Regions from separate parts of the Homo sapiens genome. Here region 2 is linked to region 1. The links come from fine-mapping of genetic effects on gene expression. A gene starts in region 1. The other region holds a variant in brackets. All regions are shown on one strand. Distances are from middle to middle.

The links. PIP is the estimated chance that this variant, and not a neighbour inherited with it, causes the effect.
Region 2: its variant is the best candidate, but not a certain one, in a credible set for the expression of ENTPD6 in whole blood (TOPMed, PIP 0.86).

The regions. Positions count from the first base shown.
Region 1 is chr20:25,192,650-25,197,890 of GRCh38, forward strand. It overlaps ENTPD6 (ectonucleoside triphosphate diphosphohydrolase 6), which reads left to right and starts at 3,063. Exons shown (of 15, transcript NM_001247.5): 1 at 3,063-3,218. LOC101926889 (a long non-coding RNA gene) reads right to left here and starts at 4,243. Exons shown (of 6, transcript NR_109994.1): 1 at 3,974-4,243. RefSeq lists enhancers at 2,519-2,758, 3,609-3,678, 4,059-4,208, 4,739-4,788 and a silencer at 2,899-3,318.
Region 2 is chr20:25,342,974-25,348,214 of GRCh38, forward strand. All of the region lies in intron 1 of ABHD12 (abhydrolase domain containing 12, lysophospholipase), which reads right to left. Among named protein-coding and RNA genes, the nearest start is that of ABHD12, 45 kb to the right of the region's middle. The variant G/A (reference allele first, on the strand shown) is at 2,262.

The DNA of each region.
Region 1 (5,241 bases):
AGACCACCTTTGTGAAACTAACAAATTAGCCACAAGATTAAAATTTATGGGCCGGGCGCGATGGCTCACACCTGTAATCCCAGCACTTTGGGAGGCCAGGGTGGGCAGATCACCTGAGGTCAGTAGTTCAAGACCAGCCTGGCCAACATGGTGAAACCCTGTCTCTACTAAAAATATAAAAATTAGCCGGGCGTGGTGGCAGGTGCCTGTAATCCCAGCTACTCAGGAGGCTGAGGCAGGATAATTGCTTGAACCCGGGAGGCAGAGGTTGCAGCGAGCCGAGATCACACCATTGCACTCCAGCCTGGGGGACAAGAGCAAGACTTCATCTCAAAAAAAAAAAAAAAAAAAAATTATGGCTTAGGAGTCATGCAGCCCGAAGCCACAAGATTCCTAACCTCCATAATTGCTCCAATAGATAATATTACTATTATATAACATAAGATTGGTGTTCAAGGTATTTTTCAGACCCCACATTGTGATGGACTAGCCACCCAGACTGGTAAACTGGCTATCTCGTCTTGTGACCCCAACCCAGGAACTAACCCAGAGCAAGACGAAAGCTTCATCTCTTCAGGATTTCATCCCTAACCCAACCAATCAGCACTCACCATTCCCTAGCCCCCTGACTGCTAAACTATCTTTTAAAAACCCTAGCCTCCAGACTGGCACAATCCCAGCACTTTGGGAGGCCAAGGAGGGCAAATCACTTGAGAGCAGGAGTTCGAGACCAGCCTGGCCAACACGGTGAAACCCCGTCTCTACTAAAAATACAAATAATTAGCTGGGCATGGTGGTGTGCGCTTGTAATCCCAGCTACTTGTAAGGCTGAGGCATGAGAATCGCTTGAACAGGAGGTGGAGGTTGCAGTAAGCCTAGACTGCACCACTGCACTCCAGCCTGGACAACAAAGCAAGACACTGTCTCAAAAACAAACCCCCCCCAAAAAATTCCTTAGACTCCGAATTTGAGGAGAGGCTGATTTGAGGAGTAATAAGCCTCTGCTCTCCTGGTTAGCCAGCTCTATGTGTATCGAACTCTTTATTGCAATTCCCATCTTGAAAAATTGGCTCTATCTGGGCGACAGGCAAGAAGAAGCTGTTGGGTGGTTACAGTGTGATGAGTGCTATGAAGGAAATAACATAAAAGGTGACAGAGAATAACTAGAGGAGGCCATTCTAGATAAAATGGTCTGAGGAGGTGACATTTGAGCTGAGTATTAAACATTGAGAAACAATCTACGAAGGGAAGATGTGGTGCAAGACCTTTCCAAGCAGTGTATAATACACACAAAAGCCCATGCCAGCAAAAAGATTTTACTTTCACAAATTCTAGAAACTCTAAGAGTAAAAAGTGGTGAAAAGAAAGGAAGTGATAACACATGTTGCCAAGTGCAGCAGGCAGAAACAGGGCCATCACCACTTCACGACAGGATCTCAAAATACTAGGAAGTGTAAATTAAAACCATGAGATATAGTTTTGTCATTATTGGATTGGGAAAGATCCAAAAGTTTGGAAAGACCCCACTGGTGAAGATGTGTGGAAACCCACAGTCTTACACATTATTTGCCAGAGTGTAAATTAGTACAGTGTCTAAGGGGGGCAATTTAGCCACGTTTGGCTAATATATTATTTTAAAGGACATATCCCACCATAGCCAATTCCACCTCTAAGAATATTTCTGACAGATATACCCACATGCATGCACAAAGACAATCCACGGGATCCAGTCACATTATTCCTAACCCAAAGCAACTGGGAAACACTTCAAGGTCCATCAGTGAAGGCCCGCATAGGCTAACCTCTGTAATAACCAAATCTCAGTGGCAGTGTCCAACCAGGTGCTTGTGGGCGACCTTCCAACAGGCACCGCATTGCCCGGCTGCCAGGCCGGGCCTGTGTACTGTCCCCGCATCCCATACAGCTAGCACTTATTCACCCTCAAAAGCGTCCCATCCTGAAAATAAACTCTTGCCCACTTGGTGCTTCAGGAACCTGGGCTTCTTCCACTAATAGCTCTCCCAGATGCCCCAGTGCGCAGGTGGGGCCGTCCTCTAGGACCAGGCCTGGCTGGGGCGCACCCACACCTCCTTGGCCAGACGCCATGGGCCGGGAAGGGGCTCTGGCCCTTGCGGGAATGAGGGCGCCTAGCATAGGTGTGCAAGTGGGCAGCCCCCACCGTGGGGTCCTTAAGTAAGCTGGAGCCTGTGAGCCAGGACAGTCAGGAGTTGCAACCTTGGTGATTTCTAGGAAGACAGAAAATGGGGTCAAGGGCCGGGTGTGGTGGCTTATGCCTATAGACCCAGCACTTTGGGAGGCCGAGGCAGGCGGATCACCTTAGGTCAGGAGTTCGAGACCAGCCTGACCAACAGGGCGAAACCTCGTCACTACTAAAGGTACAAAAATTAGCCAGGCGTGGTGGCGCACACCTGTAATCCCAGCTACTCAGGAAGCTGAGGCAACAGAATCGCTTGAACCCGGGAGGCAGAGGTTGCAGTGAGCTGAGACCACATCACTGCACTCCAGCCTGGGTGAGAACCTGTTAAAAAAAAAAATAAGAAAATGGGGTCAAGAAACGGTGGGAGGAGGGCAGATTTCATGAACCTGCCTGCTATGATGTGGCTGCATTTCCATCATGCATTGTCCTAAAAAAAGAAAAAGAAAAAAATAAAATGTAGACGTGGAGGGATGGGGGAAATTGCACAGGCCGGTCCAGGCTGTGAGGCTGCCCCCTACCAGGGACGACGAGGGCCAGCTCCGCCGCGCCGTAAGGAAACTGGCCAAGGGAACCCCTTGAATCTGGCGAGGGCCCGCCATGAGACGCTCGGGGAACCAGACTGCCGAGCCCCCCTCTCTGGGCCGACGCCAGCCCGGCTGTGGACTGGAGAAAACCGCAAGGCCACCTGCAGAAAGAAAAGAAGGCCATCGCGCCTACGCAGCTGAGCACCCATACTCCGCCCGCGCCTGCGCAACTGGGTCCCCCGACCCCCACCTCCTCTCCCGCCTGCGCATGCGCGGCTGGGTGCGCCCCCCCGCCCAGCCTGTGACGCCACGTGCATGGGGCGGAGCCCAGGCCCTAGGGAATCGTGGGGTCGTATCCCGCGGGTGGAGGCCGGGGTGGCGCCGGCCGGGGCGGGGGAGCCCAAAAGACCGGCTGCCGCCTGCTCCCCGGAAAAGGGCACTCGTCTCCGTGGGTGTGGCGGAGCGCGCGGTGCATGGTAAGCGGCGGGCCGGGGCGCTGGCGGGGGCGGCCGGGGATCACCGACTGTAGGCGGGCCTCCCCCACGCGGGCGCGCTGCGCTCCGGAGGACGGCCTCGGGGTCACTCGCACCCCGGGTCCCACCTCCTGCTGCCTTCCTGTCCAGGCTCCATTAGGGCTCCCTGGATGTCTGGGCTCCGCTGACCGGTGGGGGGCAAGTCCAGTGTTTTGGGCCACAGGGCGGGCCAAATAGCAGGGGCCTGTAGCCCCAGGGGGCCCCAGCCCTGCTGCGTTCATTCATTCAGCCCGCTTTTGCGGACCCGCCCCCAGTCTGCGTCAGGGACAGACCCCTCCGCCCTGGATGAGCCCGGCGGGGAAGCTTCGCGTAGCAGTTTCTGGGAAACAGGTAGGATCAGGCCGCTCGGACAGGACTGAGGGTGTAAGGACGATTCACCCTGGCATTGGGGTGGTGTCCCGAGGAGCTCATAGGTGGTCAGGGCGGTTCTGCCCGAGCTGACCTGTGAGCCGCGAATGCCCTGGACCGAGGGAGGGAGAGCCCCCTAGGTGGACAGACTAGACTCCTTCAGTGGAAAACATTCAACAGCCAGGAGAGCGTGGAAGAGGAAGGAGAGATGGGAGGGCCCAGGGGAGCGTGGAAGGGAGGGTGTTTTTATTATAAGTGCACCTGTAAGTGCAAAGTGCAAAGGAAGCAGCCGCCGGGAAGTGCCTGGGCAGCTCTGGGTGTCCCTCCAGGCACCTGTATTCCAGCCTTACCTGCGCGAAGCCACACATCCCACGTCACACAGGATACGGGGAAGTCAGCCATAGCCTGCAGGCGGGGAATCTGAAACCTCGCGCAGGAGTTCCTTGGGAGAGGTGGATTACAAGGACTCTTCCTCCCACCCGCTGTGCAAGAGCCATGGGCGGCCGGTAGTCATTTTTGAAGGACCTGGCAAGCACTGTACAAATCTCAAAATTGCTTTTTGTCCCCCTCCCCTTGCCTTGGAGAGAGTGGCTGGCTAGTGTGTGTGTCGTCTGCCTCCTGAAGGTTCGGGTAAAGGACCAGGGAGGTGGGCAGCCCTTTGTGTCAGGAGATCTGGAAGCGCCTCCCCTCCCACCGCCTCCTGTGTAAAGGAAACAGCAGGTGGTGTTGACGGGCGGTTCACGCACCGGTTTTTGCCAAGGAGAGAAAAACCTACTGAAACCCACCAGGAGGATGAGTGGAAGTTTCTAATGTGCTTCATTTTTTGATACAGCGTGCATGGCAGGCATTTGCATTCATGACCCTTCCGTGTACTTGAACTGAAAACCTGAAGAAACTGGCCAACAGATTAGGCAGCCATCAATCCACATCAGATGGCCCCTGTATTTCCAAGAGGTGACCTGCCATCCCCATCTAGAAAGCCAACCAGGGGACAGGGTAGCTCCTACCACCAACAACACTGCTCTACCCTCAGATTCTCTTCTCTGACTCCTGCCTCCACCTGCTGGAGGGTGGCCTCAGCAGGAGCCACACCTCTCTGTTTGCCTGTGTGCACCCTACTTCCTACCCCTGCCTTCCCTCAGTCCCCACCCGCTACCTTCCTTACAGCCTCATCCCACCCTGTCTCTCCTTTAAAGAACAGACTGAGATGGCATTGTTTTCCTCAAAGAGTCTGTCAGGGAGAACCTGATCAACACATTCACGCTGTGGTGTTAGTGGTTCCCACAGAAACCCCATTTCCTCTCCGGCAGGTGTCTCAGCCATGGGCAAACACCTTAACCTAGTGGAATGAAATTGCTGTTTAGATCTGGGACACAGGTACATGGAGATGACCTGTTCCTTGGGGAGAGGGGATGGTGAACATGATTATAAGAACTCTTCTTCCCACCCTTGTGCAAGAGCAAGGCTGTTCCTGGTTCTGTGCTCTCTCAGTACTGTGTTCTAGTTGGACTCTTGCTTTTGTCTTCCTGAACTTGGTGTGTAACTTCAGTAATTATGTCTATGTAAGGTATGTCTATGTATGTGAGTGTTTTTTGGATCTCTAAAGTCGTGATAAAGC
Region 2 (5,241 bases), 150 kb after region 1:
TCGTAGGGACAGTGTCTCCCTATGTTGCCCAGGCTGGTCTCAAACTCCTGGGCTAGGGCAATCCACCTACCTTGGCCTCCCAAAGTGCTGGGATTACAGGCATGAGCCACCACACCTGGCCTAAAGTATTTTTAAATTAAGGTATGTACACTGTTGTCTTAGACAAAACCTGCCAAAACTCACGTAAGAAATAGACAATCTGAACATGCCTGTTTCTATTAAATACATTCAATCAATAATTAACAACCTTCCAAAACAGAAATCACTGGGCCCAGATGGGTTCACTGGGGAATTCTACCAAACATTTAAGGAAGAAATTACACCAATTATCCGCAATCTCTTCCAAAAGATAGAAACAATCTCTTTTTAACTTATCCTATAAGCTCAGCATTACCCTAAATCAGACAAAGACATTACAAAAAAGAAGACTAAGCTGAGCCTAGTGGTATGTGCCTGTGATCACAGCTTCTTGGGAGGCTGAGGCAGCAGGATGGCTCCAGCCTAGGAGTTCAAGGCCAGCCTGGGCAACATCTTCAAAAAAAAGAATGAGGCCAGGCGTGGTGGCTCACGCCTGTAATTCCAGCACTTTGGGAGGCCAAGACGGGTGGATGACCTAAGGTCAGGAGTTCAAGACCACCTGGCCAACATGGGGAAATCCTGTCTCTACTGAAAATACAGCAATTAGCTGGGTGTGGTGGCAGGCATCTGTAATCCCAGCTACTTGGGAAGCTGAAGCAGGAGAACCTGGGAGGCGGAGGTTGCAGTGAGCTGAGATCGCACCACTGCACTCCAGCCTGAGCAACAAAGGAAGACTCTGTGTCAAAAAATAAAATTAATTAAAAAATAAAGAAAACTAAAGACCCATATTCTCATGAACATAAATGCAAAAATCCTCTAAAAAATATTAGCAAAGCAAATCCAACAATGTATAAAAAGAATTATACACTACGGCCAAGTGGGATTTGTCCCAGGTATGCAAGGCTAGTTCAACATATGAAAATCAATTAATGTAATACATCACATCAACAGGCTAAAAAAGAAAAATCACATGATCATATAAATAGATGCACAAAAAGCATGTGACAAAATCAACAACCATTCATGATTAAAAAGCCTCAGCACACTAGGAATAAAGGGGAACTTCCTCAACTTGATAATATCTACAAAAAACAGTTAACATCTTACTTAATGATGAAAAGCTTGAAGCTTTCCTGCTAAGATTAGGAACAAAGCAAGATTACACAATAAGATAAGAAAAGGAGATAACAGGTATAGAGACCCGGGAAGGAAAAATAAAACTTTGCAGATCACATGACTGTCTATGTATGTAGAAGATCTAAAACTTGGAACTAATTAGTGATTATAGCAAGGTTCCAGGATACGAGGTTAATATACATAAGCCAATAGTTTTCATATATACCAGCAATGTGAATCCAAAACATATTGCCATTTACATTAGCAACCCCCAAAATGAACTACTTAGATACAAATCTAACAAAATATGTACAAGATCTAATGAGGAAAACGATAAACTCTGATGAAACGTATAAAGGAAGAACTAAATAGATATTCCATCTTCATGGACAGGAAGGCCCAATATTGTCAATATGTCAGTTCTTCCCAACTTTATAGATTCAATATAATCCCAATCAGATCCCAGCAAGTTATTTCCCGGATATTGACAAACTGATCCTAAAGTTTATATGGAAAGGCAAAAGACTCAGGATAGACAGCATTAAAGGAGAAGAACAAACTTGGAGGACTGACACAAGCTGGCTTGAATACTTACAATAAAGCCACAGTAATCAAGACAGTGGTGTACTGTCAAAAATACCAACAGACCAAAGAGCCTAGAAATAGACCCACATAACTATAGTCGACTCATCTGTGACAAAGGAGCAAGGGCAATACAATGGAGCAAAGATGATCTTTTCCACAAATGGTGCTGTAACAACTGTACATTCGTATGGAAAAAAATGAAAGTAGACCTGATACCCTTCACAAAAATAAAACTCAAAATGAGTCATAGACCTAAATGTAAAAACAGAAAACTATAAAACTCCTAGGAGATAACAGAGAAAAAAATTTAGGTGAACTTGGGTATGACGAAGACTTTTTTTTTTTTTTCTGGAGATGGAGTCTCGCTCTGTCACCCAGGCTGAAGTGCAGTGGTGCCATCTCAGCTCACTGCAACCTTTGCCTCCCAGGTTCAAGCTATTCTCCTGCCTCAGCCTCCTGAGCAGCTGAGACTACAGGTGAGC[G/A]CCACCACATCCAGCTGATTTTTTGTATTTTTAGTAGAGACGGGGTTTCACCGTGTTAGCTAGGATGGTCTTGATCTCCTGATCTCATGATCCGCCCACCTCAGCCTCCCAAAGTGCTGGGATTACAGGCTTGAGCCACCGCGCCTGGCCGATGAAGACTTCTTAGATACAAAACCACCAAGGTATGATCCATGAAAGAAATATTAACAAGCTAGGTTTCATTAAAATTGAAATCTTCTGCTCTGTAAAAGACAATGTCAACAGAATGAGAAGATAAGCCACAGACTCGGAAAAACATATTAACAAAAGTATATCTGATGAAAGACAGTTATACAAAATATACAAAGAACTCTTAAAACTTGATAAGAAAATAAATAACTGGATTTTAAAAGGAGCAAAGGACCTGAACAGACACCTCTCCAAAGAAGATACACAGATGGCAAGTAAGCATATGAAAAGGTGTTCACATATGTAATCAGAGAAAGGCAAATTAAAACAATATACCACTACACACTATTAGAATGGCCAAAATGCAAAACACTGATAACACTAAATGCTAGGAGAATGTGGAGCAACAGGAATTCTCATTCATTCCCAGTGGGAATGCAAACATGGTACACAGACACTTGGGAAGACAGTTTGGCAACTCCTCACAAAACTACACATATTCTTACTATATGATCCAGCAGTCAGGCTCCTTGGTACTTACTCAAATAAATGAAAAATATATGTCCACACAAAAACTTGTAAACAGACATTTACAGCAGCTTTATTAATAACTGCCAAGAGTCTGGCAGTTATTAATAAATATAAGATAACCAAGGTAAGATGTCCTTTGATAGGTGAGTGAATAAATAAACTGGTACATCCGGACAATGGAATATTATTCAGTGCTAAACAGAAATCAGCAATCAAGCCATGAAAAGAACATGGCAGAAACTTAATATTATTTAGTGAAGCTTATTACTAAGTGAAAGAAGCTCATCTCAAAAGGCTACATACTATATGACTCCAACTATATGACATTCTGTAAAAGGTCAAACTATGGAGATGGCAAAAAGATTAGTGGTCATCCAGGGATGGGGTAGGGAGGGATGATCAGGAAGAACACAGATTTCTAGGGCAGTGAAACTATTGTGTATGATACTACAATGGTAAATAAGTATTATACATTTGTCGAAATCTCATAAAATGCACAACATCAAGAGTGAACCCTACTTAATGCAAACTATGGATTTGGGGTGATGATGTGTCAATGCAGGTTCACTGATTCTAGCAAATATGCCATTGCAGTGCAGGATGTGGATAGTGTGGCATACCATGTGTGGTAGGGGCGGGGCAGGAGTGTATGGGAAATTCTGTACTTTCCACTCAATTCTGCTGCAGACCTAAAACTGCTCTAAAAAATAAAGTTTATTTATTTATTTTGAGACGGAGCCTTGCTCTGTCGCCCAGGCTAGAGTGCAGTGGCGTGATCTCGGCTCACTGTAAGCTCTGCCTCCTGGGTTCACACCATTCTCCTGCCCTCAGCCTCCCGAGCAGCTGGGACTACAGGCGCCTGCCACCAAGCCCAGCTAATTTTTTGTGTTTTTAGTAGAGACAAGTTTCACTATGTTAGCCAGGATGGTCTCGATCTCCTGACCTTGTGATCCACCCGCCTCGGCCTCCCAAAGTGCTGGGATTACAGGTGTAAGCCACTGCGCCCGGCCAAGTTTATTAATTTTTTAAAAAGTCAACAACAATAAAATGTTACTCATAGCTGTCAAGTGTCTTTGGACTCCACAGAAAACCTGAAGCACAGGATGAGAGATGAGGGTGGTACGAGAATGGCAGTTAGTGTTCAGAGACTTGAGATGGAAACAAAAGTAAATATTACACGAAGAAATCCACAGAACCAGAAAGAGAAAACTACCTAATTTTGAAACCTTCACAGCTTACATATTAGAAGTTTTATATCATTATTTTTACCAGACAGACATATATTCCTGTAAATAATTAAGTTTTGCAAGAGTCTCATAAGGGACAGGAGTTTGTCATCTGGAAATACTGCCAGCATGCTGTTTTCAGCAGGGTACTCCCCAGCACCCTTCTCTCTCCTGGACTGCAACCATTATCTGTCTTTAAAACTGTACCAGGATGTGTGATTGGGGTATGCTTCTTTCTTTCTCTCTCATCCTGTGAGTTTTTTCTTCATTTAATTATGAACTACTAACTATATTATTTTAATACCTAAGAGTATAGTTCCCATAATAAAATTTATTTTTTCTAGATTCCATTTCAGTCAGTGTTATGGTCAAGGATAAATCTTGGCCAGGTGTGGTGGTTCACACCTGTAATCCCAGCACTTTGAGTGGCCAAGGCAGCAGGACGCCTTGAGCACCTTGAGTTTGAAACTGGCCTGGGCAAAACAGGGAGACTCTGTCTCTATAAAAAAAAAAATTAAAAATTAGCTGGGCACAGTGTGCATGCCTGTGGTCCCAGCTACTTAGGAGGCTAAGATTGGAGGATCACTTGAGCCCAGAAGGAAAGATAAATCTCTTCAGCAAGTCTGAAAATCTCTTGGAAAGGCAAATTCTGTAAGTCTATATTATACTTGAAAGGCATATCAGAAAAATAAAAATGTTTTCATGTTTTTAAAAAAAGTTCACATATGATGTTGGCTGTGGGTTTAGAAAAAAAAAAAAAAAGGAAAAAAGCCTGGGCGCAGGGTCTCACGCCTGGAATCCCAGCACTTTGGGAGGCCTAGGTGGGCAGATCACGAGGTCAGGAGATCAAGATCATCCTGGCCAACGTGGTGAAAACCCGTCTCTATCAAAAATACAAAAATTAGCTGGGCGTGGTGGCACACGCCTGTAGTCCCAGCTACTCGGGAGGCTGAGGCAGGAGAATCGCTTGAATCTGGGAGGCAGAGGTTGCAGTAAGCCGAGATGGCGCCACTGCACTCCAGCATGGGCAACAGAGCAAGACTCTGTCTCAAAAA